7 linked regions of the Homo sapiens genome follow. The protein of the gene in region 2 purifies or fractionates together with the protein of the main gene of each other region. This does not show direct contact. Each region holds a gene or a part of one and is shown on either strand. Other genes may lie near its edges. The genes, in order: FBLN5, DNAJC10, ZNF74, PPARGC1B, LRP1B, MTMR3 and ITPRID2.

Evidence for each region.
Region 1: the proteins of DNAJC10 (region 2) and FBLN5 purify together in Homo sapiens (affinity purification with mass spectrometry; 2 studies listed by BioGRID and IntAct, with this or other methods). This does not show direct contact.
Region 3: the proteins of DNAJC10 (region 2) and ZNF74 purify together in Homo sapiens (co-immunoprecipitation; one large-scale study listed by IntAct). This does not show direct contact.
Region 4: the proteins of DNAJC10 (region 2) and PPARGC1B purify together in Homo sapiens (affinity purification with mass spectrometry; 2 studies listed by BioGRID and IntAct, with this or other methods). This does not show direct contact.
Region 5: the proteins of DNAJC10 (region 2) and LRP1B purify together in Homo sapiens (affinity purification with mass spectrometry; 2 studies listed by BioGRID and IntAct, with this or other methods). This does not show direct contact.
Region 6: the proteins of DNAJC10 (region 2) and MTMR3 purify together in Homo sapiens (affinity purification with mass spectrometry; 2 studies listed by BioGRID and IntAct, with this or other methods). This does not show direct contact.
Region 7: the proteins of DNAJC10 (region 2) and ITPRID2 purify together in Homo sapiens (affinity purification with mass spectrometry; 2 studies listed by BioGRID and IntAct, with this or other methods). This does not show direct contact.

Annotation. Positions count from the first base shown.
Region 1 is NC_000014.9:91,937,695-91,941,194, forward strand, and holds part of FBLN5 (fibulin-5 isoform 1 precursor), read right to left. Parts: intron 2,923-3,500; coding exon 2,871-2,922; intron 2,257-2,870; exon of another isoform or gene 2,156-2,256; intron 759-2,155; coding exon of another isoform or gene 636-758; intron 1-635. UniProt on the Homo sapiens protein: Essential for elastic fiber formation, is involved in the assembly of continuous elastin (ELN) polymer and promotes the interaction of microfibrils and ELN. Stabilizes and organizes elastic fibers in the skin, lung and vasculature.
Region 2 is NC_000002.12:182,719,257-182,724,104, forward strand, and holds part of DNAJC10 (dnaJ homolog subfamily C member 10 isoform 1 precursor), read left to right. Parts: intron 1-750; coding exon 751-913; intron 914-2,768; coding exon 2,769-2,819; intron 2,820-4,848. UniProt on the Homo sapiens protein: Endoplasmic reticulum disulfide reductase involved both in the correct folding of proteins and degradation of misfolded proteins.
Region 3 is NC_000022.11:20,406,553-20,408,955, reverse strand, and holds the end of ZNF74 (zinc finger protein 74), read right to left. Parts: coding exon 1,988-2,403; 3' UTR 501-1,987; downstream 1-500. UniProt on the Homo sapiens protein: May play a role in RNA metabolism.
Region 4 is NC_000005.10:149,851,725-149,856,285, forward strand, and holds the end of PPARGC1B (peroxisome proliferator-activated receptor gamma coactivator 1-beta), read left to right. Parts: 3' UTR 1-3,298; downstream 3,299-4,561. UniProt on the Homo sapiens protein: Plays a role of stimulator of transcription factors and nuclear receptors activities. Activates transcriptional activity of estrogen receptor alpha, nuclear respiratory factor 1 (NRF1) and glucocorticoid receptor in the presence of glucocorticoids.
Region 5 is NC_000002.12:140,230,247-140,235,094, forward strand, and holds the end of LRP1B (low-density lipoprotein receptor-related protein 1B precursor), read right to left. Parts: intron 4,639-4,848; coding exon 4,540-4,638; intron 3,081-4,539; coding exon 2,940-3,080; 3' UTR 1,177-2,939; downstream 1-1,176. UniProt on the Homo sapiens protein: Potential cell surface proteins that bind and internalize ligands in the process of receptor-mediated endocytosis.
Region 6 is NC_000022.11:30,021,326-30,026,173, reverse strand, and holds part of MTMR3 (phosphatidylinositol-3,5-bisphosphate 3-phosphatase MTMR3), read right to left. Parts: intron 4,146-4,848; coding exon 4,035-4,145; intron 3,566-4,034; coding exon 3,477-3,565; intron 2,718-3,476; coding exon of another isoform or gene 2,691-2,717; intron 545-2,690; coding exon 373-544; 3' UTR 1-372. UniProt on the Homo sapiens protein: Lipid phosphatase that specifically dephosphorylates the D-3 position of phosphatidylinositol 3-phosphate and phosphatidylinositol 3,5-bisphosphate, generating phosphatidylinositol and phosphatidylinositol 5-phosphate.
Region 7 is NC_000002.12:181,897,427-181,902,274, reverse strand, and holds part of ITPRID2 (protein ITPRID2), read right to left. Parts: intron 3,396-4,848; coding exon 3,356-3,395; intron 3,262-3,355; coding exon 3,163-3,261; intron 1,580-3,162; coding exon 1,371-1,579; intron 510-1,370; coding exon 1-509.

The sequences.
Region 1 (3,500 bases), on a different chromosome or scaffold from region 2:
CTCTGCAGAGAGCCCCCACCAGCAAGAAGGCCCTCACCAGATGGAGATCCTCAACCTTGGACTTCTCAGCTTCCACAATTGTAAGAAATAAATTCCTCTTCTTTATAAATTACCCAGTTTTAGGTATTTAGGTATAAGCAACAGAGAACGGACTAAAACAAACCTGTACTATCATTTGCACATACTCTTTCTTTAAGTAAGCCCATATTTGAAGCCCAAATAAATGTATATTTAAAGTCTTACATGACTACAGCAAGTGAAAACTAGCATAAGTAGAAGGTAACAGTAAAAATAAATATACACTATTAAAATAAAGAGTGTTTATCTGCAGATGTACCATCTAATACATCAAGGATCCTCGTGTGCACATACTATACTCTGAAAATACTGGGATGGGCCTAACAATTGTCTCCACTTCTACTTCAAGTAACAGTGGTCAGGGGAGAAAGAGTCTCTTGCATCAGGAAAAGACAAGGCTTAGGCTGGGCACAGTGGCTCATGCCTGTAATCCCAGCACTTTGGGAGGCCGAGGCAGGTGGATCACCTGAGGTCAGGAGTTCAAGACCAGCCTCCCAACATGGGGAAATCCCATCTCTACTAAATACCAAAAATTAGATGGGTGTGGTGGCACATGCCTGTAATTCCAGCTACTTGGGAGGCTGAGGCAGAAGAATCGCTTGAACCCGGGAGGCAGAGGTTGCAGTGAGCTGAGATTGCGCCATTGCACTCCAGCCTAGGCGACGAGAGGGAAACTCCATCTCAAAACAAAAACAAAAACAAAAAAAAGAAAAAAGAAAAAAAAGAAAAGGCTTGACTGACAGCTAGTTGCTTGTTAAGAAAGCAGAGCTTTGCTTTCAAGTCAGCTCTGTGCCAGCCAACAATTTCTAGCCAGGCTGGGCTCTGCTTGTTATGTCTGGAAGGGGAGAGGTGGACTCTCTAGAAAATCAGCCTTGCTAGGGTACAGACAGGGGAGGCCTGAACTGTGGCTCCAGCGAGCAGTAGACATGATCCCGTATACCGAGCCATGTCAGCAGCCTTGGAGTCTGCTCTGTGCGGGGCTAGAGACTGGAGACCACATGCCTGCACCCGACAACTCACCCCCAGCATCTCATCTGAGAAACTCACACCCAATCCTACCAGAGGTAAAAGCAATGGCAAGGTGCAGAATGCAACAGCCTGTTCTCCAGCTTGAAGCCTGAAGCCATCGCTGAAATGGGGGGCCAGAAAAGAAGGCCACTGCTCTACTCTTGATTCCTCATCAAATCTTCAAATCAAAACACCTTATTTTAAAATCAAAACGTAAGCCCAGATTTCCCAGGACAGGGTTTTATTCCTCACTGTTCATCGATTTTTCAAACCATCTATCTCCCCTCTGGAGCATGGTGACGTTAGCTCAGAGAAGACAAATGATTTTGCTTAAATTAAATATAATTTAAAAGCTAAATACTTCCCCTAAGATGGGGGCAAGTAGGGCTGTCTTCTTCCGTTCATATGCCCTATGCTCTGTCAACAACAAACTATTCCATGCTCTGAGTGTCCTTTCCACACCTGGTCCTTGTTAATGCTGTTCCTTCTACCTGGAATGGCATTTCTTAGGATCCTATTCATCTTTCAATACCCAATTCAAATGTGACCTCCATTAATTTTTTTTTTTTTTTTTTTTGAGACAGAGTCTCTCTCTGTTGCCCAGGCTGGAGTACAGTGGTGCGATCTCAGCTCATTGCAACCTCTGCCTCCCAGGTTCAAACCATTCTCCTGCCTCAGCTTCCTGAGTAGCTGGGGCTACAAGCACATGCCACTACTCCTGGCTAATTTTTTTGTATTTTTAGTAGAGACAGGGTTTCACCATGTTGGCCAGGCTGGTCTCGCACTCCTGCCCTCAGGTGATGCACTCGCCTCGGCCTCCCAAAGTGCTGGGATTACAGGCGTGAGCCACCGCACCCGGCCCCATCGATGCTTTATTGACCCTGGACATAAGGTATTACTTTCTCCTCTTCTTTTGCAGAGTCCATTGCAAAAGATGGCATGCTAAGAGAATGACCCCCACAAACACTCCAAAATCTCTTCCTAGTCCTCAGAACCTGTGAATAGGTTGGGTTACACGGCAAAGGGGAATTAAGGTAGCAGCTGGAATTAAGCTTACTAAGCAGCTGACCTTGAGATGGGGAGGTTATCCTGGATTTTCTGGGTGGGCCCGATATATTCACAGGAGTTCTTAAAAGTAGAAGAAGAAGAGGCTGATTGGTCAGAGAGATGCTACAACAGAAAAAGAAGAGATTCAAAGTGAGAAACGCTTGACTCGCTGTGTTGGCTTTGAGGATGGAGGGAGGAGCCACCAGCCAAGGAAAGCAGGAGGCTTCTAAAAGGTAGGAATTGCCCTCCACTGACAGTCAGCAAGGAAACAGAACCTCAGTCCTACAACCACAAGAAACTCAATTCTGCCAACAACCAGAAGGGAATAAAAGTCTCCCTTAGAGCCTCCAGAAGAGCACACAGCCCTACTGACACCTTAATTCTATTCTGGTGGAGACTCAAGTCAAACTTCTGACCTACTGAACTGTAAAATCATACACTGGTGTTGTTTAAGCCACTAAGTTGGTGGTAATTTGTTACGGCAGCCCTAGGAAACACCAATCCAATAGAAACCTTCAAGAGAACAGAGATCAATTCTTTCACCCCTCTCAGTGCTTAGCTCAAGGCCAGGCACAAAGAAGGTGATCAATAAAAGGGCACCACTGACTTCAGTCATTCCATGTCACTGTATTCTCCCATGGGCATGGCTAATCATTGAACAACAGAGAAAGAAATAAATAGCACTGCAACTGGGCTGAATGCCTCCACCCCAATGAAGGATCCACAGTGGCTCATACCTAAACACTGTCCTGACTGGCGATCCAGGTCAAAGCCATTCGTGCACTGTGCCTGCAGGGAAGGAGAGAGGAGAAACAGGCAAGGTCATTTCACACCATAAAAGTCTTATTGCTGCAACACAGAAAGTTGGGGAAATGGAGCAAAAAAGAAAGGCCTCCAAAATACCAATACCTGTATTATAACCCCTATTTGTTCTTCTAAAATTTTTCCTTGTAATTATTTTATACTTAGAACTACTTTCTAAACTCCCCACACCAGGCCAGGCGCAGTGGCTCATGCATGTAATCCCAGCACTTTGGGAGGCTGAGGAGGAAGGATTTCTTGAGCCCAGGATTTTGAGACCGCCCTCAAGACCCCATCTCTGTGTTTTTAGAAAAACTTTATTTAAAAAAAAACTCCCTGTACCATTGCTTCATAGCTCCCATTTTTAGCAGACAGGTTTCAGGGTTTTTAATGCTGTAGTTGTGAAGAGCAAGAGGAATCATATCTGCTGAGCCTAATGTGGCATGCTCCCTGTTCATCCCCTTTCTGGGAATGAATAAGACTGCTTTTAAGGGCAATGACTCTTTCTTTAGGTGCTACCTCGCCTTCAGAGTGTCGAATATGAGTTATTTGCCCCCATGAAATCC
Region 2 (4,848 bases):
TTTTTTTTTTTTTTTTTGAGATAGGGTCTCACTCTCTTGCCCAGACTGGAGTGCAGTGACGCCAGCGGCTTCCTGCAACTTCTGCATCACAGGCTTAAGCAATTCCCCTGCCTCACCCTCCTGAGTAGCTGGGATTACAGGCGTGCGTCACTACTGCCCAGCTAGTTTTTGTGTTTTTAGTAGAAACGGGGCTTCACCATGTTGGCCAGGCTGGTCTCGATCTCCTGACCTCAAATGATCCACCCTCCTCAGTCTCCCAAAGTACTGGGATCGATTTTGGGGTGTTTTCTGATACTGGCTTTTATGTAATTAGCTGATAGATTGGGGCACATCCTTTTTTAATTAAGTTGATTTTACCTCAAATAGAAAAATAACCTACAAATGTATTGATTTATAATTGTTATAGGAGTAAAAAATATTTATGAAATTAAGAGTTTCAACAGGCTTATTATTTTCAGCTGCATTTTTTAGGAAGAATAACTCATGGTCTGATAACGTCTGTCAACCTTTTGAAGAGTCAATTATTTCATTACTTTTCTTACTTTTTTTTTTTTTTTTTTGAAGATTATAGTTTCTTAAAAAATACTTCATTTCAACCCATGGTAACTCATGTCATGTTGTATTACCCCTCCTTATGTTGGTATATGGTCTCCCAGAAGTTACTAGATTAATTAAACCTACATATATGTTTTGAAGAAACTTGGATTGTGTATCTGAAATAATTGTATTATATCTAATATTTTTTAACAGAATAACCCAAATGCACATGGCGATTTTTTAAAAATAAATAGAGCATATGAAGTACTCAAAGATGAAGATCTACGGAAAAAGTATGACAAATATGGAGAAAAGGGACTTGAGGATAATCAAGGTGGCCAGTATGAAAGCTGGAACTATTATCGTTATGATTTTGGTAAGGTGATACGATATTACTTATGAAATGTGTTTTATCTGAGTAAAAGAAAAGTGAATTCTGTTTCACCACTTAGCTTATATATTTAAGATGCGTCACTTTGATTAGCTCCTTTTAATTTGCTGTGGGAGTGAAATTTAAAAGGAATGTCAGTTGGTATACAGAGATGATCTGTACAGATATGAAGTTGTATTGGTTAAATCTTGTTAAATACTTTTAAAATAAGGATTGCTATTTAATAAAAAATATGCATTCATGGACTGCATAATGACATTTCACTTAACAATGGATTGTATGTAGGACATTGGTCCCATGAAATTATAATACCATATTTTTACTGTACCTTTTCTATATTTAAATACAAAGATACTTAGCATTGTGTTACAGTTGCCTATGGTATTCAGCAGTAACATGCTGTACAGATTTGTAGACTAGGTGTGTAGTAAGCTATACTATCTAGGTTTGTGTAAGTACACTCTGTGATGTTTTTGCAACAACAAAATTCCCTAACAACACATTTCTCAGAATGTGTCCCATTAGTAAGTGATGTATGACTATATGTTTGCATTAGGGGTAGCTAAATATTTCTTTCAGTATTTTTTAGTATTGAATAATATTAATTTCTTTCAATATATTTTAGAGCATCATATTGTCCAAGAAAGGCGAAACTTCAAGTTTAGTAATGATCTCTTCAATAGAAATGCCGTCCTTCTCATATGGAACCCTTACTGATTTTTAAGGTGTTTTGGCCTTCGGTTGACATTAAGGTCAATACCTTGAAACATTATCAATAAAGGTTCCATATGAGAAGGACGAAAGGTGTTTTTTTTCTTAAACATGGAGGAAAAAATAAGGTGGAAGGAGGAAACAAAGTAAAGGAACTAAGGAAGAGAGATTGTAAACACACAGGTATCAAGGGAGGAAGGTGTGTTCAGAGACCCAGTGTTTCTCCTAGTCATTAATTAACCTCAAATGCAGGCTAAGAACTGAATATGCTTCTGTATTAGACTAAATGAAGTATTTTAAATTTATATCTGGAGGATTTGCTTTTAGTAAATATGATTTTTTTTCAAAATAGTATTTTCAAGTATATTCTCTACACCTTGATAGTCTATATCAAGAGTTAGCAGACTGCATTTCATAGGCCAAATCTGGCTTGCCATTTGCTTTTATAAATAAGTTTTATTGGAATGGAATTACTTTAATTTGTTTACATAATATATGTGACTTCTTTCACACTTCAAGAGCAGAGTTGAGAAGTTGTGATAGAAGCCATACATCCCACAAAGCCTAAAAAATGTATATTTACTAAATATTTGTGTCTGCCTCTGCAAATACTCTAAGCTTTTTAGCAGAAGATATTCTAACATGATACCATGTGTTAAAAACCATATAATCTGAAAATCAAATGAGGTCTGTAGTCTAGTTAACAGTGTACCACTCTCAATTTCCTGGTTTTCGATATTGTGCTATATAGCTACATAACATGTCACCATTAGAGGAAGGTGAGTAAAAAGTATACAAGAGTCTATATTTTTGCACCTTCCTGAATCTGTAATTATTTTTAAAACCATAATATAAATTTTATATGGAGGTAAAATTATGTGAATATTACGAACTACCGCATACACATCTATGAGAGTCCATATCAGAATTCTAATATCTTTAGATCACCCTAAATGTACTGATAGTATTATTTACTTTTTTTTCACTTAGGATGTTGCATATTCTCTAAGTTTGAGATATAATATAGTAGTTTGATTTTTTTGATGATTAAAACGAGTAATCTATTTTTATGTTGCAATTTATATGGTGAAGTTTTGATTTTATAATTTTTATATACTTTTAAAATTAGGTATTTATGATGATGATCCTGAAATCATAACATTGGAAAGAAGAGAATTTGGTAAGTTTGTGGGCTTAAGGTTTTATAAAACTAATACAAGTTCGATCTCATCTAAAACTCTAGGGGATATATATGTTTGAAATTTAGAAATCTTTTGGAGTTTCGAACAGTAATAATGTAATATACTGTATCTTAAATATTTCTAGCAGAATGTGGGGAAGTGTACCATAATAAAAACATTAATATTTATGTAGCAAAATGTGTAAGTATATATACTAAATAAAAGAAATTTAAAAATCAGTTCAGATCAGGTTTGGATGCCAAGTGAGCTTGCTGCAAACTTACAGCAAAACTTCTCAGAGCTTTTTGATTTTAGAGTTTTGGATAAAGGTATAGTTATTTTGGAAGTAGATTTAATTTGATTGGCAACTTTGTGTGAAAATGGCCATAAAAATACAGTTCTGCATTTTCCATTGCATTTTAGAAAATTGTATACCAGAATAGATTCTTATACTTTCATCCTTTGTACAGTAATAATAGGTTTATTTTTTCTATTTCAGAGCAATAAATTAAACTTCAAATCAAATTTCAATTTTATATTGCTCTATCACAATTGTATTTAATTTAGAAAACTAAAATACAGCCAGGCGCGGTGGCTCACACCTGTATAATCCCAGCACTTTGGGAGGCCAAGGCAGGCAGATCGCTTGAGATCAGGAGTTAGAAACCAGCCTGGCCAACATGGGGAAAACCCTCTCTACTAAAAATACAAAAATTAGGTGTGCCTGGTGGCACGCACCTGTAATCCCAGCTACTTGGGAGGCTGACGCACAAGAATCGCGTGAATCTGGGAGGCTGATATTGCAGTGAGCCATGATGGCACCACAAAAAAAAAGAAAACTAAAATAGCGTACCAGTCGCAAAAAATACATATAAATCTATATGTTTTTCATATATTATCGTTAAAAATTTATTACAGCTACTTGATTTTATACAGTTTGTTCCTTCTAAGCAAGGGTGGCTTTTTTTTTTTTTTTTTTTTGAGACGGAGTCTTGCTTTGTCACCCAGACCAGTGTGCAGTGGCACGATCTTGGCTCACTGCAACCTCTGCCCCCTGGGTTCAAGCGATTCTCCTGCCTCAGCCTTCTGAATAGCTGGGATTACAGGTGCCCGCTACCACACCCAGTTAATTTTTGTATTTGTATTTTTAGTAGAGACAGGATTTCACCATGTTGGCCAGGCTGATCTCGAACTCCTGACCTCAGGCGATCCACCCACGTTGGCCTCCCAAAGTGCCAGGATTACAGGCATGAGCCACCACATCTGGCCAAGGGTGGCATTTTAATCTTATTTTCTACATCATGCTGGTGAGCTTCACATACAAAATAGCTGTTCAATGTGTTACTTTGTTAAAAGCCTTCTAGGTGAACACTTGAACATGTTCTAAGTGAATAGAAAATACATCTTTCCTGTGTTCTGCAAATAAGACAATTTGATTCATTTGGATTGTTAATAGAATTAATGCTCATGTCACAAGCTGGTAGAATCATAACTCTCGTGTGAGTTATATAAACCTATAGCTGTTCCTGTGTGGTTTTTATTGTCTCTCATCTCCTAATATATCAGTAAGTGTTTTGTGTACCAATGGTTCAGAAAACATCGGAATTACAGATAGAGGAACTGAACAAAACTTGCAAGCTTACTAATCCATGAGTCTACCTAGAATGAGACTTCACTGATAGTTATATTGTATATGGGTTCACACTTTTTCAGATGTGTCACTATGCAGAAAAGCTTAAGAACTGTTAATAGTTCATATAGAACCCCAAATGGTAGTTCAAGATAAATTGCAGCCACAAAACTTCAGAGATAATTCATAAATAATTAACCTTGCTTGATGAGAGGAATGAGCAGGAGCATTGTTGTGATAGAGAAGGACCCTCTAGTGAAGCTTTCCCAGGCATTTTTCTGCTAAGCAGATGTTATCATTTCTGGCTCTCTAGAAAGTCAACAAGCAAATGCCTTCTAAGCTCTTCTATTATATGCAGCATAGGTTAAGTAGGTTTAATCAATTCTGACAGCTACTGT
Region 3 (2,403 bases), on a different chromosome or scaffold from region 2:
AACAAAAGAGTATCTAAGAGACCAGAGAGAACACTGTGCCTCTGTTTAGAAGTATAACAAGGACATGGATGAAGCTGGAAACCATCATTCTCAGCACACTATCGCAAGGACAAAAAACCAAATATCGCATGTTCTCACTCATAGGTTGGAATTGAACAATGGACACAGGAAGGGGAACATCACACACCAGGGCCTGTTGTGGGGTGGGGGGAGGCGGGAGGGATAGCATTTGGAGATATACCTAATGTTAAATGACGAGTTACTGGGTGCAGCACACCAACATGACACATGTATACATATGTAACTAACCTGCACGTTGTGCATACGTACCCTAGAACTTACAGTATAATTTAAAAAAAAAAGAAGTATAACGAGGACAGTTTAGATGCTTGAAAAAAAAATCTGCTACAAAGCTAAAGAGGGAAAAAAGATAAAAACTATAGATACACTGTGTTGAAAATAATGCAAAGTTCTACATGAACAAAGCAGAGGGTAATGTATCAAAGTGCAAAAGGCAGTTTTATTAAGAATTATGGGGATTTTATTTTTCAGAAGTCCACATTTTCTGAAGTGTGGTTATTTTGCCTGCATAATTTAAAAAGCATACTGAAAGCATTTCATAAACGATAGCACTCCGTATAAAGTATGATCACCAAGAGGGCAGCTTATTCTTGCTTAGGACTAAGTAGAAATAACATTCATTCAAGATTAACTCTGTCTTCCTGTCTCTGAAGAGTGTTGGGACAGGGAGAGCCGCCTTTTCCAGGGTTTGCAAAACAGCTCCATGTGGGACCACCATGGAGCCCGTCTCCCTGGGCTTCAGCTTCCCCTCTCCAGTGGGTGCTGGGAGGGGCTTCTTCTGTGACCTGGGCTGGTGACTGGTGCTACATAGTGAGAAGCCCTGCAGGGCAGCCTCACCAGCCCAGGGTGGCCCTGCCCAGCCCTGGTCAGTGAAGAGGAGCTTCCAGACACACCCATCCTGATGTTGTGCCCATCTTCCCTGAATGCACTGGGCACCTGCCTGGTAGCTCCCAATTTCTCACTAGGGGCTAAATGGCAAGAGGTGATGTTGGCATGTTAGGATCTGGCTACAATGATGCTGGGCCGTGCTGTGACAGCTGTGGGAATGCCCCTGACTGCACTGTCACTAAACACACAGCTCTGCAGTAGAGCTATTTACATGAGTTAAGTCCAGGAAATTCACTTTTTCCAAATGCCCACCACCCAAGATTATTCTCCTCTCTAGCAATATAATAATGTTCACTGGAAAGTGATGCTAGTCATAATTCTTGTTTTATTATTATTCTGAAAATAATAGTTTATGGAGGAAACTCCTGATTAAAGCCGTGTCAGGAGCCCGTCCGAGGATACAACAGTTGATATACCTCCTTTTAATTTCACACAGGGTCTTGCTTTGTCACCCAGGCTGCAGTGCAGTGCTGTGAATCATGGCTCACTGCAGCCTTGACCTCCTAGGCTCAAATGATCCTCCCACCTCAGCCTCCTGAGTAGCTGGGACCACAGGGACATGCCGCCACATCTGGCTAATTTTTGCATTTTTTGTAGAGACGAGGTCTCACCATGTTGTCCAGGCTGGTCCTAGACTCCTGGGCTCAAGTGATCCCCTTGCCTTGGCCTCCCACAGTGTTAAGATTACAGGTGTGAGCCATGGCACCCAACGATATCCCTTCTTTTTATTGGCAAGAAAGATCTTTCCCCTTGTCAACAACTTCCAGGCCCATCAAGGAAAACAGGTGGCAAGACTACCTCAAATGACTCTCAACACTCCTCCTGGAGTGTGGCCCTTCTGGGGAGGTGACTGACTTTAACTAGAGGAGGCACCCTGGCATGCAGACCTGATGGGGGTGATAAGGCAAGGCTCCCACACCTGGAGGAAGGTGGTCTGGATCTAGGAGCCAGGGAGGACCAGGGTGCTTTCCTTGTTGAGTAGCTCAGAAAGCAGCTACTGACACCAAAGCACATCATGTTAGTTTCGAGGTTTGCTCCCCAGGGAGAAATTCCTGCCAGCTCTGGGGGGAACCACGCACAAGAGCTTTGCCACATCCAGCGCGTCGATGGGATCCACGTCCCTCAGTCCAGCATCCCCTGCACCCAGCAGGCTGCCAGGCACGTAGTATGTGCTGAGCAGGTGTTTGTTGAACTGGATGGCCAAGGGCTTCCCCTCGCTGTGCAGCCTCTGGTGCTCAGTGAGGTGCGAGCTCCAGTTGAACATCTCCCCACATTTCTCACACTTAAACGACTTCTCCCCGGAGTGGATTTTCTGATGTTTAATGAGACAGTGGTTCTGGCTGAAGGCTCTGCCGCACTCGCTGCACTTGTAGGGCTTCTCACCGGTGTGGATGCGCTGGTGCACGATGAGGGACGAGTGGCAGCTGAAGGCCT
Region 4 (4,561 bases), on a different chromosome or scaffold from region 2:
TCTGCTCGTCAAGTTTGGAGGTACCGGGTAAATGGAGGGGAGCTGCAGAGTTGGAAACCCACATGCATGGATGTGTCCTTGGCCCAGAACCACCATGGGATGGGGGAGGCCCTGAGCCGGCTACAAGACACCCAGGAAGTAGGCAAAGGCTGACTTTGCATTAAACAATAAAAGCACTTTGAGAAAACCCCAACACTTCAGCCTGGGTCCGTGTTTCTACACTGGAAAATACGAGTCTCCTTTGGCTGTGTGAAGTGATCTTCTAGAGACTGGGACAGGGAGTTTGGGAATGGGGCTGCTGTCAGGTAGGAGAGAGCAGAGATGCCTTTGGAGATGTCAGCAGCAGGAGAGCCAGTGCTGGGGCCAACCCTTTGCTGGCCTTTTGTTGGAAGCCCTTGAAACAGGGAGCCATGGGTTTAGATCTTGGTACCTACCTTTACAGAAAGATGAAAACAGCCCAGCTGAGTGAAATGAGTTTGTAGAGTAAGTCACTTAACTGTAAGCCATCTCAGAATCAGAAACCCTAATGTTTCTTACTTGCTATGTGACCTTGGGCCCCTGTTTCCTCATCTACCAAATGAGAATGTTGAATATGAGCATTAAAGTCCCTTTCACCTCTGAGAGGCTCAGATCCCCAACCAGGAGCATTGGGAATCCATCACTCCTCCTTGAAACTGATTCCATTCTCTGACTTGACCCAGCTCCTGTTCAGGGTGAGGGTTCTCTGCAAGAACCAACCAGCAGTAGGTTCAATCCCACTGTGTCCTGGCTGAGTTGCCTTATCCAAGAAGACCAGCTCCCCGGGACAGATCTAAGCCATAGTTTCTAGTGGGGACAGTAAGGAATTAAACCCCCAACTTGGCTAGGTAACGATGTCAAATCTCACATTAACCTTGTCTTTGTCCCCACTGGATAGCTGTTAATCCGAATGTTGTGACCATTTGGCTGTTTCTCTCTTGTTCTCAGACAATACTAGCAATACACTTTTTTTTTTTTTTTTTAAAGAAAAACAGCTTAGGAGCTTTTCACACATTTCTTTCAAATGATTGTAAAACATATGGGGCAACAGGAGGCATTGATCGCGCTGCATATGTTTAGGGCAGCTTTTGTTTTTTGTTTCTTTAATGGTATAGCAGCAGTGACTGAGCCTTCGTGATTCCTGGGGACAGCTTTTCAGATACTCTGTTTCATCAGTATGCTTTGCACATCCGGAAGGAGTACAAAAATCCAACTGCCCAAATTTGGGGCTTGGAAAATAGGTTTTATAGGTGGTCGGTCCCTGGGCTGTGCAACAACTCCTCAAAGAGGGGTTTATATAACTAGAACCCCCCTGGGCTGTATTTTTGGTCAAAGGAGTCTCCAAGGCGGCTTACAAAAGCTTCCTTTTTCACTTGACCACCCTTGCTCATTGGTTACTTGTGAAGGGAATTGGTCAGTTTCCACCTCAGCACTTTGCCTTATCAACATGCGGTCGCCATCTAGTGGCCAAAGGTTGTCTCCACCAGCTACCCAGATGGAAGGCAAATAAATCCTTTCGGCCACCCTGCTGTCCATCGTGAACTTTGGGAATGAAATATAATGGCCTGAACGAACTGCCTTTGTGTTCAGAGATCAGTGCAACACTAGGGTCAGAAGACTCCAGAAGCAGCCACTTAGTAGACTCTCACGCAGAACTGAGAAATGCACTAGCTGTCCTGTGGGCAGAAGAGACAGGAGTGGACCAGGAGAGGTCCAGGTGCCCGGGAAGGGTTTACTGTAACTGCAATACTGGCAGCCCAGCTGCTGACCTTGTTAAGTAAACCTTTGCTGGGTGGTCCGAATTCTGCCCTCAAGGCAAGATAAGAAGTTGGGTGTAAGGATTTTGTGGGGGGCCTGGCCATGATCTTTGATATGATCCCCGAATAGCCAAATAGTTTTTTTTGTTCAATTTTTTGTTTCTGTATTTTGTATTTTTAAAATCTTGTCAAATGTTTTTGTGTTAGGAATAAAAAGTCATAAACTATTCCCAACTTTGTTTCTTGAGGGATGTTCTGATTCCAATGGAAACAGGTGGGAAATCTCAAGGGGAGCGTGGACAAGGTGGTATGTGCAGCAGGGGAATAGACTGCTTGGATTTCCAAATGGTTTCTGGGGAAGATGACCATCCAGAAGTCCAGCTTAGTGCAGTCTGCTCTGGAATTCACACCCACCCCCTCGCCTCCTTGTGCCATGTTGTTAGCATTGGCTTGGAGCATCTGCTTCTTCCAGAGGCAGCTGCTAATGTTGAAACCAACACGAGCCCTCTCCCCAACCCCAGGTTTCTAAAGAAGGTGTCTGTAGCCAGCCTTAATCAACTGGGCAAGGTGGTCCCTATGGTCCTTTCCAGCATTTCCAAATCTTGGACTCAAATTATTTTCTCTTGGTGTGACCACACAGCCTAGAGAATTCTGAGCAATAGGAGCCAGGGCTTTCCCTGACTCTGCGACAGGGTCAAACCAAGGAATGGCTAAACCTGTGAGGTTTTGTCATCCCCGGGGGTACTACTGTAGGGGGCATTATTTATTAGGAAGCTTAACAAGGTAACTACGGCCTGAGTGCGTGAGTGTAAGGCTGTGTTTGTGGTGGGGGTGTGTGTGTGTGTATCTGTGCACACATACACACGTCTGTGCCTGTGTGTGTGTGTTTGTGTGTGTGTGTGTGTGTGGAATTACATTGATGCATTTATTGAGAAAGGTGCAAGAATTTCACCTACACAGAGGGACACATCTGCTTTGTTATTTATAATAGAAAGCTAAATTTTAATTTTTTAAAGGACACTGCTAATGATTGAGAATCAAGTTTTTAGTTTTGCTATTTTTTTTAATTGGTAGAGGATTTTTATATATTTTTTCCATTTTGTTGGGTTGTGTCCTTATTTATATAAATACTTTATCCGTAAGAGGCAAGGAGGAAACCTTCTTTGCTTTTACATATTGTGGTTGTCATCGTCCCTATTTTATTTCTGGTGTGATTTCTCTGTCTTACCTTCTAAATGAGAAAATGTTTTCTTGTATTTGTACATTGTCAGATTCTATAGTTTCCTAGATAATTTAACCAAATTGCTCTATGTATTATTATTCTGTGAGTATAAAGTTCTATTTTAATGTCTGTAAATACTTCAGAACTGGCTTCTTTTCTCAAACTCCCACTGTGGGGTTATTGTTTACATCACAGAAACTGTAGAATCTCTATGCTCATGTACTGTAAATAGTGAAGTGATCTGCTTATAAATAAACTTAACAAATACACTATGGAGATTAAAAACAAAATACCACCCACAGCTTTGCCCATGTGTGTTTTTCCTTGTTGGTCCTGGGAGCTCATTGAGGGACACTCTGACCACTAAATGGGGAAGAGATTTCAGTTTTCAGCGTCACCTTCTCAGATAAGACCCCGGATGATGTCTGCTCCTCACCTCACCACACTTCTCCCTCCTTCAGAGCACTTTTCACAGTTCATAATATCCATTCGTGCCAGGCACAGGGGCTGAGGTGGGGGATCACTTGAGCCCAGGAGTTCAAGGCCAGCCTGGGCAACATAGTGAGACCCCCATCTCTGAAAAAGTAAAGTAAATAAAATATAATAAATAAATAAAATAACCATTCAGACTCATCTCACATAACAGCTGTTCCATGAACGACTTTTTGCCCTGACTTTTATAAAGCTATACCACTTTCTGAACAAAGACTTCCTTGTTTTGGTATATCAACTTTCACATAAGCACATTGAATAAATGCACTGTAGGAGGTATTTTGGCATTGTGGTTCCAGGCAAAACACTCATCAATTTGTAATTACAAAATGGTTTCTGGTCAGAGGATCTCATAGAGAGCAGGCCTGCATTGTGTGCGGTAATTGAATGAGCTCAGAACATTTTCCTTTGTGTACTTCCAGCAAGTAGGGTGAGGAAGTGGCATCTTCCAAGACTCTCAGTTGCGTGCCTGTGTGTTATTTCCTCACGTCTCAAAGGGGTTAGCCTGTATTTTGCCCTAAAGCTGTTTTTTGTGCTTTAACTTTATTTTTAAATGCCAGACACCCATAAGCCCCAAAGGGTTGAAACACTGGCAAAGAGAATTATATATAAACAAGAACAGGCTGGGCGCGGTGGCTCGCATCTGTAATCCCAGCACTTTGGGAGGCTGAGGCGGGCGGATCACCTGAGGTTAGGAGTTCGAGACTAGCCTGGCCAACGTGGTGAAACCCCATCTCTACTAACAATACAAAAATTAGCCCGGCGTGGTGAGGGGCGCCTGTAATCCCAGCTACTCGGGAGGCTGAGGCAGGAGAATCGCTTGAACCCGGGAGGCGGAGGTTGCAGTGAGCCAAGGTCGTGGCAACAGAGCCTGGGCAACAGAGCAAGACTCCATCTCAAAATAAATAAATAAAATAAGAACAGGTGCAATGAATGATTACATTTTATGTTATGTGCAAACTATTTTCAGGTTGCTATTTATTACATAAACTCATACAAACTCATACATATATTCTCCTTGTTCAGGTGATTTATTTTCCCCATCTGTAAAGATTGTTTGGATTTCTTTGAT
Region 5 (4,848 bases), about 42 Mb from region 2:
TGTTCCCCAGAAGACATTTGGCAATGTTTATAGACATTTGTTTGTGTCAACTTTAGGTAGTAGTACTGGCGTTACTGAAATGGATAGAAGGAAATGATGGTTCTAAATATCCTTCCCCATAAAGGAAAACAAATAATTACTTGATAAAATGCCAAAAAGTTGAAACTCATTGCTCTAGATAAGAAGGCATTTGGGTAGAGAAGCAAGTTCATCAAGAAACATTAATATTTATAAAATATCTCCCATCAAAGCTTGAAGCAATAGTTTAGAAAGCATTTTTTGATGGCATTTATAAAGAATTGTGACTTTGAAAGAGAATTATAAACTTGAATTTCTAGCATTTATAAAAATTTTTGCAATAGAAAATTGGAATAGAACACAATAGAGCTATGGAAACAGATTAAATTAACTTTAAGTAGTTGAAAATATATATTTATCATCTAAAGTAGCTGCAGGGCCCCAGGGTTAAAAAAAACACATTCTAAGCTTTGTTGACTATTGTTTTCACTAGGGCCCTAGTGAGAGTAGGTCATCAATGTCAGGTCCCAACTGGCAGTAGGTTGCATATCATATATTATTTGCTAGATATTTATACTAATGTTAACTGTATTAATATCACACCACTCTGTGGGTTCTTTGAAATATTTTCAGTTGCATTTACACAGCTCTGACATCAGAAGGCCCCTTCAAATAATATAACTCAATGTTAAGTAAATCAGACGCACCTATATTTTCCATCTCTAGTCTGATGCTAAAAGTAGGTATAGCAAATAACCATTCTAACAAAATAATGTGGAAATAGCGTCTAATGGAAATCTGATTTTCCATAAAGTACAGTTTTGGGGAATAGAAAGGGACAGGAAGAGCTTTGGCTTGTTTAGCATGGTTGTCATGCTACTGTGTATAGAACCTTTCTTTCTATTGCAATATGGAGACTCTGACAGGCACAGGAAGGCAGGGAAAAGGATAAAGTAAGGGGAGTGTTTCTACTCCATGAAGACAGAAAATGCCTTCTCTACTGTGCATTGAAAGATGATACAATGAAATCAGTTTTCCCCTGGAGTGTATTATGTTCTAAGGATATAAAAATGCCGTGTTTACTAAAACAGTTCTCTCAGAATATTTAAGCTACATAAAGGAATTTTCTTATTTTTAAAAACTACCCAACACAAGCTCTTAAATATGTAGAATTTCATTTAAATAAGTCAGTCAACAATTTTTTATAAAGTATTTAACACTTCATTGTAGAAACATAGGCAAAATGACTATATTATAACCAAAATGAAAAATACTGTTCAATTTAAAAAATGTACTTAAACAAGAACCTGAAAAAGTTTATGATATGCATAACATTGTTCAAGCAAAATTGCACTAGTATTACATAAATCAATAGTTTATAAAGGCCTCAATATGGCAAAGTTTAGAAATAGGTAGTATGCATGCACATAGTACAACAAAAAGTCTTCTTATAAAACAGCAGTTTTTTTAATGCTTGTACAAAGGGATAAAGAGCAACCACATATTTAACATATTTCATCTGTTAGGTTAATACATTATGACAGCTAAAAGTCAGTCATGTCTATCAGAGGAACAAAAAGCCCTCCAAAACTTGTGAATAAATCTTTTGTGCCTTTAAAGATATTTGTATAAAAATGCTATCCTTTTATTTTTATATACAACTTAAATAAATCGCACTCGTTTCAACTCAAATTTGAAGATAAACAAACCAAACGTGAATGGGGTCCATGCGTTCTGTAAAACCCAGAGAAACCTGAATACCAGAGCAACTGGCACAGCATTTCGACTCTCCACTTTTGATTATGGGAAGATCATTGTTCTTCTACAACTTGGAAGGCCCTTGAATATATTTTGGATAGGGCAAATAATGGGTTGCTCATATTAAATCTTGAAAATATTTGCCAATCACTCTGTATACTAAAATGTCTGCTTTGCCCTTTGTTTTTTGACCTAGCAAAGAGGATGCGTTCACGTAATTGAAATTCTGTCACCAATTTGTGTGCTTATATATTATTCTTTAGTGTTCAGTGTAGTGTAAGGGGTTGGGTTAATCTTCCACAAAATGGATGTGACTGGGAAGAAATACCTAAGATGCAAGTACCCAATGCCCTGTTGTGCTCTAGGCTGGCTATTTATCTCGAGACTGAGGGAGAATAAAAGGTCTTATTCCATAGCAAGTGCAGTCGGCCAACTTTCGGTTATATTTTTGCTATGTTCTACCACCTAAATATAACTATTGCTTACAAGGTGTATACATTTAGTACATCACATAGAGTCCACTAAGTTTTGGAAAATGTAGTCATCTGTGTTCATGCAAATTATTAATTTTACATATTTTTAATTTTTTTCCTCAAAATTCTCATCTATTGGTTGGCAATCTAAGGCTAATTTCAAAGCAGGTGATGCTGAACTTGTGAGAGCTATATATTTTCAGCAGAGTCTGAATCGATCTTTATGGGCACAAAGAAGAGAGTTGACCATTCAATCATTTTTCCATCAATTTAAACAGAAAAATAATATGACACTGTATTACAGCCTTCAAACCGTATAATGGAAAAGTGCAGAGATTCTCCTCGTTGATTAAGTACAACCAAAAAAGTTCATATAAAATAGATTGCTCATATTCACACTACAAAGGAATACGTTGTTTTTAATTTTAACAAATTCAAAGGTGTGTCATATCAGCAGCATTGTTGTAAATTGTACTGTAGTGCAGTTCTTTTTCATAAAAATACCATACAAATGGTCAATCAATAGTCATCAGCAAAAAATAAAACCCAAAAAACTCAGAAAACAATTAACCAGGAAAAAGATAAAGAAAGAGGTAATGCTGATGCCAAAACAAGTATAATACTGTTGGAACATACAAAAGTAATCCTTATATTTTATACATTTATACAGCATATAAAAGATATCACTGATTATGCCACTGTCTCTCTTATACCAATTTCTATTTTCTTTGGAAGCAGTTCTTTCCTTTCATCAACACTTCCTAAGGAGTTTCGACAGTTTTGCCCATCCATATATAATTTTGCATATACCGGATTGGAGTAATTTGTTGGCTGAAGGAGAAAAAAAATAAATATAATTTTATTACTGGTCTTGGCCACATTAATTATTTACTTCCTAGAATGTCCATCTCCTAATCGTAACAATATTTATATGCAATACATTTAATTTATTAAATAGTAATGATTTAAAGGTTATTTACATGTTACATTTACAGACTTTACTCAACTCAAGCATGGTATTAAATGAAACATAATTTTACATTTTGCAAGTAACTTGTGAACCTAAGAGGAGCTTTGCCATATACAAAAAGCCAGAAAAAAATCTTTGTAAAAGCTATGTTCACTGAGACTTTATTATAAAAGCATAAAATGTGAAACTAAATTGTCATGTTTTCAGTTTTTGTGTTGTCCCCCTTATTGCTATTACAAGCCTATCCGTGGCAAGTAAGATGTGTTTTCAGAAAAACATTTGTTTGGTGCTTATAATTTTTCAACATGAACTTAAAAACAAGTAAACAAAAATGTAAAGAAATGCATTAGTGTATCAGATTTTTAAAGCAATATTTTTGCCTCAAACAACCTGTGTGTACTTATTAGAAATATTTTTGGACTTTTTCAAAGAATTGTGATGTACACAGTCATCTTAAGTTTCACAAACATAGCATTTTGAAGTAGAATTAGAGGCATGCAGCAGCTGACCTCTTTGAGTTGGAAAACATATACATACAATGTTCACTATTTAACAAATTGCAGTTTATCCCAAGAAAATTTTGCCTAGTGTTTGTTTTCCTTATTTTTTGTTTCGTCTTTCCAAAAACAGTACATTAAATCTTAGTTACAACAAGGAAACATTATAATCTTTGAGCCATGCAATTGAGACAAACATGATAGAAAATGAGGATGAAAACAGTTGATGGGAAAGACGATAAGGGAGAGAATTCTCATCCCTAGGAATCTTGATAATGCATATTTTTATTCCTCTTCTGCTTAAAATGAACTATGTAACTTTAGACAGAACAGCTTTCTCTAAACACCAGTTACTTAATTGAAACATGTTTTTGAGAGTGGTTTTGTTAGACCGTCTGTAATTTCTCAATATGATGACACATTTTAAAGTATAGTCTATTTAACTGCACGTCAAATTTGTATATATTAAATAAACCACTATGAGAGGAAATGAATAAAATCAAAAGTTTATTCAGTTTTAATTTCTGGCTAGAGCTTCTTTGCTAAGAATAACAAATACTCATGTTCACTGTAAAGGGACAATAACATTTCCAAATCCAGTAGAAGAGATATTTCTACTTAATGGCTTGCCTAAAATAATGTTTTAGATGTAATCTTGCATAGACAGGACACATAACATAAGCCCCCAATTTAAATGCTATTTTGAAATCTCTTGTTAATTAAAAACTTAATTAAAAACAAGCCTCTAAGTCTAGTAATTAGTCTTTGATTGTGAGGGTTCTGTGATGAAACGGACATGAAATAACGAATATTCTTCTCTCACCCCAGCAGTTAGTGGTCCTTTCAAATCAGAGTTTAGGTAGATGGGCGGCGCTGTGTGTGGAAGCTTGAAAGCACTGGGTCCTCCCCCTATGTACCTGGCCTGTATATAAACAGAAAATTTTAGTTTCTGATCTAATATTATAGAATCACTTTTCATCGATACATATCATGTTAATTCATAAAAATAACATAAAAATACCCTTTAGCCTTACACCATTTACAGTGTGTTCATGTTAGCTTTAACAACTTAAAACAACTTAAAATATCCAATATTAATATTATTAAAGATCCAATATTAATATTGGATCTT
Region 6 (4,848 bases), on a different chromosome or scaffold from region 2:
TGGCTCTGACCACCATCCTCCCACCCGGAAGAAACAAGCCATCCCTCAGTGTCACGTGACAGCAGGCAGCTCGGCAGTTACAGTGGGCCTGGCAACCCTTGGTCTTCCATCAAAAAAAAAAAAAATTAAGACAACCAAGGGAAAGTTTCCTTTTTTGAAGGCAGAGGAGGAGGATGGAAAAGGTAGGGAGGGAGTAGGGGGACAGGAAAGAAAAATCAATCTACAATCCAGTGGTGCATCCCAAATCTGTCACTCTGTACAGGTGGTTCCACGCTCCCATTCCAAAGTGCACGGGCCTCTCGGTCTGCCCAGGTTGAGTGGGCCTGTCATAGGAACAGCAGCTTGGCCACTGCCCACCCAGGTCACTGAGCTTCAGTTGGAAGTGGCAGCAATGGGCTTATCCAGTTCAAGGTCAATGCTGGAGCTTGTGGGATGTAGGCTGCTATAGCAAGACTTGCATACTCGACTGGGTTCAAAGAGCTGCTGGCTGGGAACTGGAACCTTCTGGTTACAACAACTGGAGCAGAATACGTTCCCACAATTCCTTGAGATGAGAAGAAACAGAACAATGTTAGTTTTGGCCAGCAGGTATGCGGAGGGAAACCAACTTCAAAAGACAAACTTTGCCGTGTGTAATTTGCATGTGCTGGAGCTCCTTGAGATCAAACCCTTTCATCTCTCTAGCCCAGGAACAAGCTGGGTAGGGAGGGTGTCCCTACCTAGCAGAGTCACATGTCATTTTCACTTTGGGGCCAAGGATTCTTGGCTGCCTCACCACTGACTCAAAAGAATGCTGCTCAGGTATACAAAAGAATGCTGCTCAAGAGAGATCTGTAAGAATACATGGTCCTAACAATGGGTTAGTCCTGATCCAGGAAAACCCAGTGGCCACACCCACCTAGGCAATGCCCTCTGTGTAGCTTGTGATCACAGAGGCCAGGCTCCTCAAACGAGAGAAACAACTACCCAGCCTCACTGGGGAGTAAGGAGCCTTGCCCAACGGCCACTTCTCCAGAGGATCAAAGGCAGCAACATGGCAGATAGACTGCTGCCATTTTGGACTGCTCTGCTGGCAGCATGCAAAGCCAGGGACAAGTAGCCTGTGATGCATGCTCAGAGGGTGAAAGAGGAGAGGTGGGAGGACAAGAACACAGGATGAACACACGTGCACACACACCCCCTTATTAGATAGGTGTCAGTCAATTATGGCTCACTCCCCGACCCATGCATCTCCAGGGAAAACCAGAGTTCTACCAGAAGGCCAGAATGCACTCAGGCCCCAGGCATCCCTCTCCTCCTCCCCTGAAAGCTGGGTTCTGAGGCATCTGTGCAGCACAGTTCTGCACCCCCAGATGGATGCCCATCAGAGCCAACAGGAAAGGGAATTGGCAAAGAATGAGTTTCTGCCCACCTTACAACTCTACTTTTGCTGGGCCCTGAGGTACAAATCAATCCTAATGAGCCTAAGAACAAGAAGCTCCAAGGAGCCTGACACAGCCCACCAAAGACTGGGGGAGGGCAGCTTCTTAGCCTTCTAACTTTTCATTTATGCTGTTCGGAATGCAAACCCACTGCTGGATTAAGGATCACTTAGGCACAGGAGGAGAGAAGACTAAGACCAGTTGGGAACAAAAGAATACCACAAAAGGAAAAGGTGGGACATGGGGCAATGGAAAGACAGAAAAGAAAAACACAAAATTCATCTTCTAGAATGCTGTACTTCGTAACTAGTTCTAAAAAGCGTGAGTCAGCAAAAACCTGTAGTTACACAGAAAAATTTCTGAACATCTACACTTCTTTAACATTCCTGCTGGAGTTCAGCTCAAAAGCCTGACATGAATTTGATGCTTTTCTTTCTTTTCTTTACTTTTTCGAGATGGGAGTTTTGCTCTTATTGCCCAGGCTGGAGTGCAATGGTGCGATCTTGGCTCACTGCAACCTCCGCCTCCCAGGTTCAAGAGATTCTCTTCTCCTGCCTCAGCCTCCCAAGGAGCTGGGATTACAGGCGTGCACCACCATGCCCAGCTAATTTTGTATTTTTAGTAAAGATGGAGTTACACAATGTTGGTCGGGCTGGTCTTGAACTCCTGACCTCAGGTGATCTGCCATCCTCGGCCTCCCAAAGTGCTAGGATTATAGGCGTAAGCCACCGCACCTGGCTGATGCTTTTCTATCTGACTTCTTTCAGAGGACCCTGAAAGACACTAAGTGGAATCTTTCCTTGAAGTCTTCCAAGCTAAAACAATTCTCTGGAAAGATCACCTCTGTTCAGTCCTGGTCTCTTAAAAAAAAAAAAAAAAGGGAAAAAAGAAGCAGTGATGCTGTTTGACCTGGAAATTACTAGCATTATTCTGGCATCTCAATGAATCACTGACCCAAAATAAATAGCTCTGAAAACCCAACTGGTTCCCCTACAAGACCAGAAGACAAGAAGCACTACTTCTCGTCACAAGCAAGACGGCCTGGCTGACCTCTGTGATCAGGAGGGGAGCACATGGCTGCAGCCTGACCCACCCTCGATGGCCTCTCCTCAGCTGCTTTGAATCCCCTCAAGCCCACCTATCTGCCTGTGCACCCAAGGCCCCAGGCTTCACCCTAGTAAGTGCAGAGAGGGGGAAATGATAAGAGTTAGTGTGGAGAAGTTATTGTAGATGTGCAGACATCACAGGCAGGTTGTTGCAAATGCTCACCACGTTTGATCAACACGGTCAGTGTCCCTGCAAGGAGGGGAGAAAGAGCTCAGAAGAGAAGCCAACCAAAGATATCTGGGCTTGGGGTGCAGGGTGGGGAGATACATGTCCTAGAAGCATCATTACTAGGCAAAGAGACTGTTCCATTTTCAATCCACCCACTCGTGTGGGTGAGCTATGGCATGATTCAGATAAACTTCCTCTTCTAAGAACACTGAACATCCACCAGACAGTCAACACCCTAGCTGGGGCAAAGGGTCCCTAGTAAACTCACTACCCTAACCCAGAAGGAAAAAGAAGTCAGGAACCTTAATGATTGGAAGACTGTCCTCAGCTGTCTCTACTACTTCCCAAGCTACAGCTGCTCACCAATGGCACAAGGGAAAACAAGTGTGGGGTCAGGGAGCAGGAAAGGAATAGGAAAATAGTTCCCTCCCCATCGCAGGAAAACTGGTTTTGCTCATAGTAGCCATGTTGAATGGGAAGAAATGTTATGCTGAGAATAAGAAATGGTGGTTTCAGTGGTGGCTGTTGTTTCACCAATCTGGGAAACAACAAAATGCTACCATTTGCACATTTCAGAATTTAACAGTGATTACTCTGAATTTGAACAAAGATGCCAAATGCAGTTTTGCAAACACCAATTTCAGAGGCACAGGAAGATGAGACCATGGCTCTGCCTCAGACAGAACACTGAGATACCCACAACCCTCTACTCTGCAGGCTCTGTGGGCCGACCCTCAACCTCCACACACAGCCCACCCTACCACAGCCCCTCAATGGTACCTGCAGTGGTGCTTCCTGCTGGCAAGCCAGAAGGCACTGTCGCACGCATAGCAGTGGGCGGCCAGGTGGTCAGGAAGCCAACGGGTCATCTGCAAAACAGATGGGACCAGGTTACTGACAGGAGATGGGCCATCCAGCTGGAGCCAGCAGAGCCATGCTGGGGGCAGCAAGAGTCACAAGGACCACATCAGCTCCAGTGGCACCAGCCCAGCAGATCTGATGTCAACAGTACAAGAAAGGCGTCCAAATCGTTTCCCTGGAGGGGACTCCAATCTCCCCTGAGATAAAGTAGCAGGCAGCAGCACCCTGGGTCACTGTGAGAGCTGGCAAGGCTCCAGTTCATAGAGGCAATGAAGAGGGAGGGCCAGCTTGCTGAGTCTCCCTGGCTCAGAAATCCTAGGCTTCATGTGGGTTCCCAGGAGCTAAGGTGCCAGAGGCTCAGGGCTAGCTGTGCTGGGAGGTGCTTCCTTGGCCAGGGGTATGGGGTGGGAATGGGGGTGGAGAAGAACCACAAAACAGTTAAATTGATGGCACTCAGAGCAGGGGCTGAGCCTGTACCTCTGTGTCCTGTTTATCCACCTGCTCCCAGCTGGCTTCAGAGAAAATCTCTGTGCTGCAGCGAGACAAACAGTTCTGATCCAGATTGCTTTCCGAGTCGGGGATTGAAGTCTGTTGGCAAACAAACACAGCTGAACAGAATGAACCTGGTCTCCTCCCAAAAGAAGAAAAGGCCTGGTGAAGAAGGGAGAACTGAGGACTCTGGGTGGGGCCGAGTGCTAGGACTGCCGAATCTGCAGATGCATCAGCCATCAAGAACTGGGGTGAAGAAGTGCAGTGTGGGCCTGGGCTCAGCTGGGAGAGGGATACACAGGTTGTGTGCAGTGACTCTGGAGTAGAAAAACAGGCCCTCAGGGTTCCAGAAAGTGAGTGAGAGGGAAGTGACCAAAATGGAATGAGAATTCTGTATGTCAGCTGCTCCAGTGGGCCTGTCAATCCAACCCTGCCTGCCACTAAGTTAAAGCTGAGTGCTTTCGGGATGCCCTCCTTTTCTTAGAAGGACTCTCTGGGAACATGAGAAACTATCATTAGCATGAAGGAAAAGCCAAGTCACTCTGAACTGAAAGTCACTGGATGTGCCCGCCTTTAATGTACGCTGACCACTTGAGAGCCAGGCTCACACTTGTACTTGAGCTGCCTGAGTCAAGTCCACCCAGAGAGGAAAGCACCTCCTTGAGAACCTCCCCCTCTGGAACCCCCATTTCCAGCCACAAACCCCCATCAGAGCTAACTCCTCAACAGTGCTAGAAACCAGTCCCTTCTCTCCATTTCTACTGGCAGCATCTGCCACAGGATGGGTATAAATATTTGTTTA
Region 7 (4,848 bases), 820 kb from region 2:
ACCCAGTTTACTCTCATGACTTTGAGTTTCTTTACTTTGTTCATTTTCAGTTCCTTGGTTAAAATTACTATTTGCTTCATCAGAAATTCTATCACTATCAGCATTCTCCGTAACAGCTGCTGAACTACCAGAGACTTCTTCTTTAACTGTAGCCAACATAGAAGATGACTCTTTCTTCTTCATAATTTTTTGAGACTTTTGATCGTTTTTATTGCCACTTTCTTCAATCACTGAAACATTTAGAATCTTTCCTTTTTCAGCTGATGGAGAAGGACTACTACTTTCTCCTTTCTCTGTTTTATCAACACATAAATTCAGTTTTGAGAGTGTTTTCATTAAACGATTTGCAGTGTTACTTCGAGTTAAAGGTGGAGGTGGGTCTGTCTCCTTGTTAGAGGTCACTGAGGACATACTTCCAATTCTCTGCAGGGGCGTCCCGGAGACTTGAGAATATAAAGAAGAAAACGCATTGGCCACAGTAGTAAGCACTTCAATTTGACGAAAACGGCCTACCAAAAGAAACAATATTAATGATATGTTTATATTTATATATATACATACACATATATTAAATGCATATTATTGTTTAGAATTCCAAAAACTACACTTAGATCACAAAGATTATAAAACCCTATTTTTTCCTCATCTAACACTTAAACCTTCTCTACATTCACTGGGTGGGAAGGAGCAAGATTTTTACTCTAAGCACTAGAATTTGTATTTTTAAAAAATCAGAAATAAGCACAAAGCATAATGGCAACATTGAATAAAACAGAAAGAACTAGCTATTGAATCTACAGTTGTGATTCTATTCTGAAGTCTTGAACTCCATTAAGACTCTTTCAAAATTCTCCTAAGAAAATGCATGTAAGCATATATTTTATACCTAATTTGCAGGGTGAGGGATTTATTGATCTCTTAAAACTGATCCATGAACAATGCAGGATTGGAATCCTATTTTTGGAATCTTTGGCTAACAGAAAGAAAACAAGCAAAGATATGAGTGAAACTGATCAAATTAGCCAGACTAGTTCCTGAAACAGACTGACTTCATTTAAGATTAACAAGGCTCCTCTCCTACTTCTTTTCTTCTTGAATAAAAGCAATCTGTAGACAACAATAAGGTTCTGCAAATAAGTTATGGTAGCACTTAAGTCAGGAATTGGGGAGGAGGGGAAAAATAGGCAAATTAACCACTATAAATGGAGTAATAAAATAGCTTAATTTTAACATGTAAAAATGGCTTTTGCGTTAATCAATCTCTTTACTTTCCAGTGCTATTCCTGAAAATTAAGGCTTTAAAATAAGACCATCTTGCTGTAGATGCTATAATTTAAGAAAATAATATGCCTAACACTTAAAAATCTTACTTGTTAAAGCATAATTTGGGTTTTCTACTTCCATCCGTTGCATCTGAGCACTCAAAAATACTTTAATATCTATCCCTTTGGCAAAGGATGATGAATTAAAAAATCTGGAAGGAATTTTAGAAGCAATATCTGGTTCATCACGTCCAAATCCAAGATTATAAAGAATTTCTTCAGGATCTTCCTCATAAAGTTCCAACAATTCTGAAACACTACAAAAAAAGGGGGCAAAAAAGGAAACATGAAAATATAAAATAAATTGATAGTCCACACCACATTATAAATGAATACATATTACTGATTTCCTGTGATAAAATCTTTTTTCTCAGCTTCTGCTCTGGAAACCATTATTTATTTTACCATGTTTACACATGTGTACTGGGGAATAAATAGCCCTTATAAAGGGTTCATTGTCTCAAGTTGCTAGAGTTGCAGAAAAGAGCTAACCCCAACGAACACAGTCAGAGATTCCCTACGTGATTCCTCACCTTATTTGTTTTGTCATTTTAAGAGATTCCCTGTAAAGCAGCTAAAACAAGTAGAAGACAGATGATGAAGAATAAGGAATGAACAGATTAAAGCAGAAATTAAAAGGAACTGAGGGACATTTTGTGAAATTTGAGCTTTTCTGTTATCCTTGTCCTAGGAGTGGCAATTGTCCTAGGAGGAACAATAAAGATAACAAGCTGATTTCAGAGAAGCGAGGGAGGAGCTTACTTTCAACTTCTCTCCAACCACTTCCACTCAGGAAGTAGGAGGAGTAAGGTACAGAGAGTGTGGGTTACACAAAGGTAACTACTCTAATCCTATTGGGAATTAAATATTTAGTATCCCTTCTCTCTCATACCAGTGATAATCCAAGCTTTCTAAGACTCACTGAAGAAAACAGGAAAGTTAGAGATGGAACTTCAACAGAGAGACATTTCAATTTGTTTCAGACAAAATGCTCAGATTCTAATATTATAATTTGGATAACAGTTTAAACTGGATTCCATAGGCACATGCACTGATGTATTTTAATATACTATATGTGCGGGCGGGAGAGGGGCAAGGGTATTTTTCTGTTTGGCTTTTTTGAGACAGCGTCTCACTCTGTCAGCCAAGTTGAAATGGAGTGGCACAATTATAGCTCACTGCAGCCTCAACCTCCTGGGTACCACTTCAGCCTTCCAAGTGGTTGTGACTACAGGTGGATCCCACCATACCCAGCTAATTTTTGCATTTTTTGTAAAGACAGGGTTTCGCCGTTTCCCCATATTGCTCAGGCTGGTCTTGAATTCCTAAGCTCAAGTAATCCACCCACTTTGACACTCCAAAGCACTGGGATTACCGGTGTCAGCCACTGGGCCTGGCTATACTATATATTTGAAAGATCTTTGGTTTAATGTGTTGAAAAAAAGTATGCTTAAATATCAAGCTGTAACTTAGAAAAATTTATTCTGATTTTTGTGTCAGAGTTAACTCAAGTCCTTAACAATGAATTTTGGTTCTCTACAACTACAAGTTACTCCGCTATGGAGTTCCTCTTTCAGGCTGTTGAGAGGGCTCAAAATACTCATTTATGGGTTCCAGCAGCAGTATAAGCCTATTTATTGCATTTTATTTAATCTCAAAGTAAAACAAAACAAAACAAAACAAAACAAAAAGCTCCTATCAGTTGTGCTGGTACAGGAAACGCTCTTTTTGTGTTCTTTCTGATTTCATATGATCAAGGTCAAATCCAAGATTGAAAAAATGATAAGAGTAGGTCATCTATAGCACAATGTAATTCCAACACAATTTCAGAATAAGTTACCTTGAAACTGTCCCACTACTTTTCCCAGATCCAGTGGAATTCATACTTCTCCCTTTCTGATGAAACTGTAATCTTCTCTCTTTGGCCAAGATATTATTGCTACGAACAAAATCAGATTATATAAAACTTTATAACTTTATTTTCATTAAAGGTCTTCATTTTTTAAAAGAAATAGAACAAAACAGCTACATACCAGTTTTCAATTTGAGCATCACTTTCATGGAGGTGGTTGGCTACAGGTAAAAACAATAAACGTAGAGCACAATTGTTAGTAGGACTATAACTACTATGATACAATTATCAAGAAATCTAATTACCTACAATATTAGAATTAAATGCCAAATATATTAAACACTTATCTTGGTCCATTAAATCTGCATTATTAAAAGTGATATACAGATAGATAAGAACAGGGCCAGGAGCTTTTGAAGGGTGTTTTTGTGTTGTGGCAACATGAAACTAACTACTCTCACTTGAGTGCTTAAAATAAAAAAACGTATAGGGAACCAGTTAAATTTCTTTAACAGGTTAGAAATAAGTAATGAGGAAGATATGTACCATATATGTGGTACTAATTATTAAATTTAAAAGCTATTAATGAATAATATCTTAAGAGGAAAACATGATTTAACATTAAGTGTGGCAATAGTATATGTCAGTTTCTAATGTGAATTTTTTTTAAGGTTATAACTGATTTTTCACACATATAACATGAAAATTTCTACTTATTTCAATATAAACTTTCTTTTAAAAATTGCCTTTCAACTTTATGATAGAACTTTAGCTTAAAGTTCTAAACAGGTAAGTGTTAATGTTTAAAGTTAAATTTATAGACAAATACAAAGAATAAAATTAATTATAAACACATCTATTTCAGCACACATGAATTGCTTTTCATTTCTGATCTACAAAGTTATGACAATTTTGTGTTTCTTTGTACATCCACCAGAAAGGTGCCTAACTCACAGCACTCAGTAATTATTTACTTAATGAATGGAAATAGCCTTGAAATAATTTTCAGTAAAACAACATAATAGATTTACTCTTTCATGAGACTCCTTTTTAGGTTCTGGTTTCCAATAAAATCATTCAATATTATCAAACTACCAAGGCAAATATCAAAAGTGCAAAGTGCATTTTAATAACGGATTGACAACATGTTCAATTGTACTGAGTGGGAATCAGTAAGTTTAAGCTCTTTATAGAGCTTGAAAATATATGAACAGAAATAATAAGAACTAATATATTTGCATATTCCAGAGTTTTAAATGTTAGAAGGTTCTAAATAAGTAATTTACTTTACAGATGCATTTGAAACAGGAAAAAATCAAGAATATTAAATTCAATGTATAAATTCACTATTCACCAACTTGTAAGCTTTAAAGACTTTTTAAAAATCCTTGTTTTTTTTAAAAAAGTACACATTAATAACTGAGCTATACAGCTATGAATAATCTATGCAATTTGATCAATGAGCTATAAAATAGCTTTTAAAACACCAGTAAAATAATTAAAAATTCTTATTTTTTGTACAAGAAAGCTTTATTATAAATCTACTGGAAAACATTACATAACTTGTAAAAACTTTTAAATAGCACAACACACTTTTTAAAATCTAATGCTTTCTGGAATAAACACCAGCATGATTTCTAATAAAATTCTATTAGCTCTGCTATTTTGTCTTTC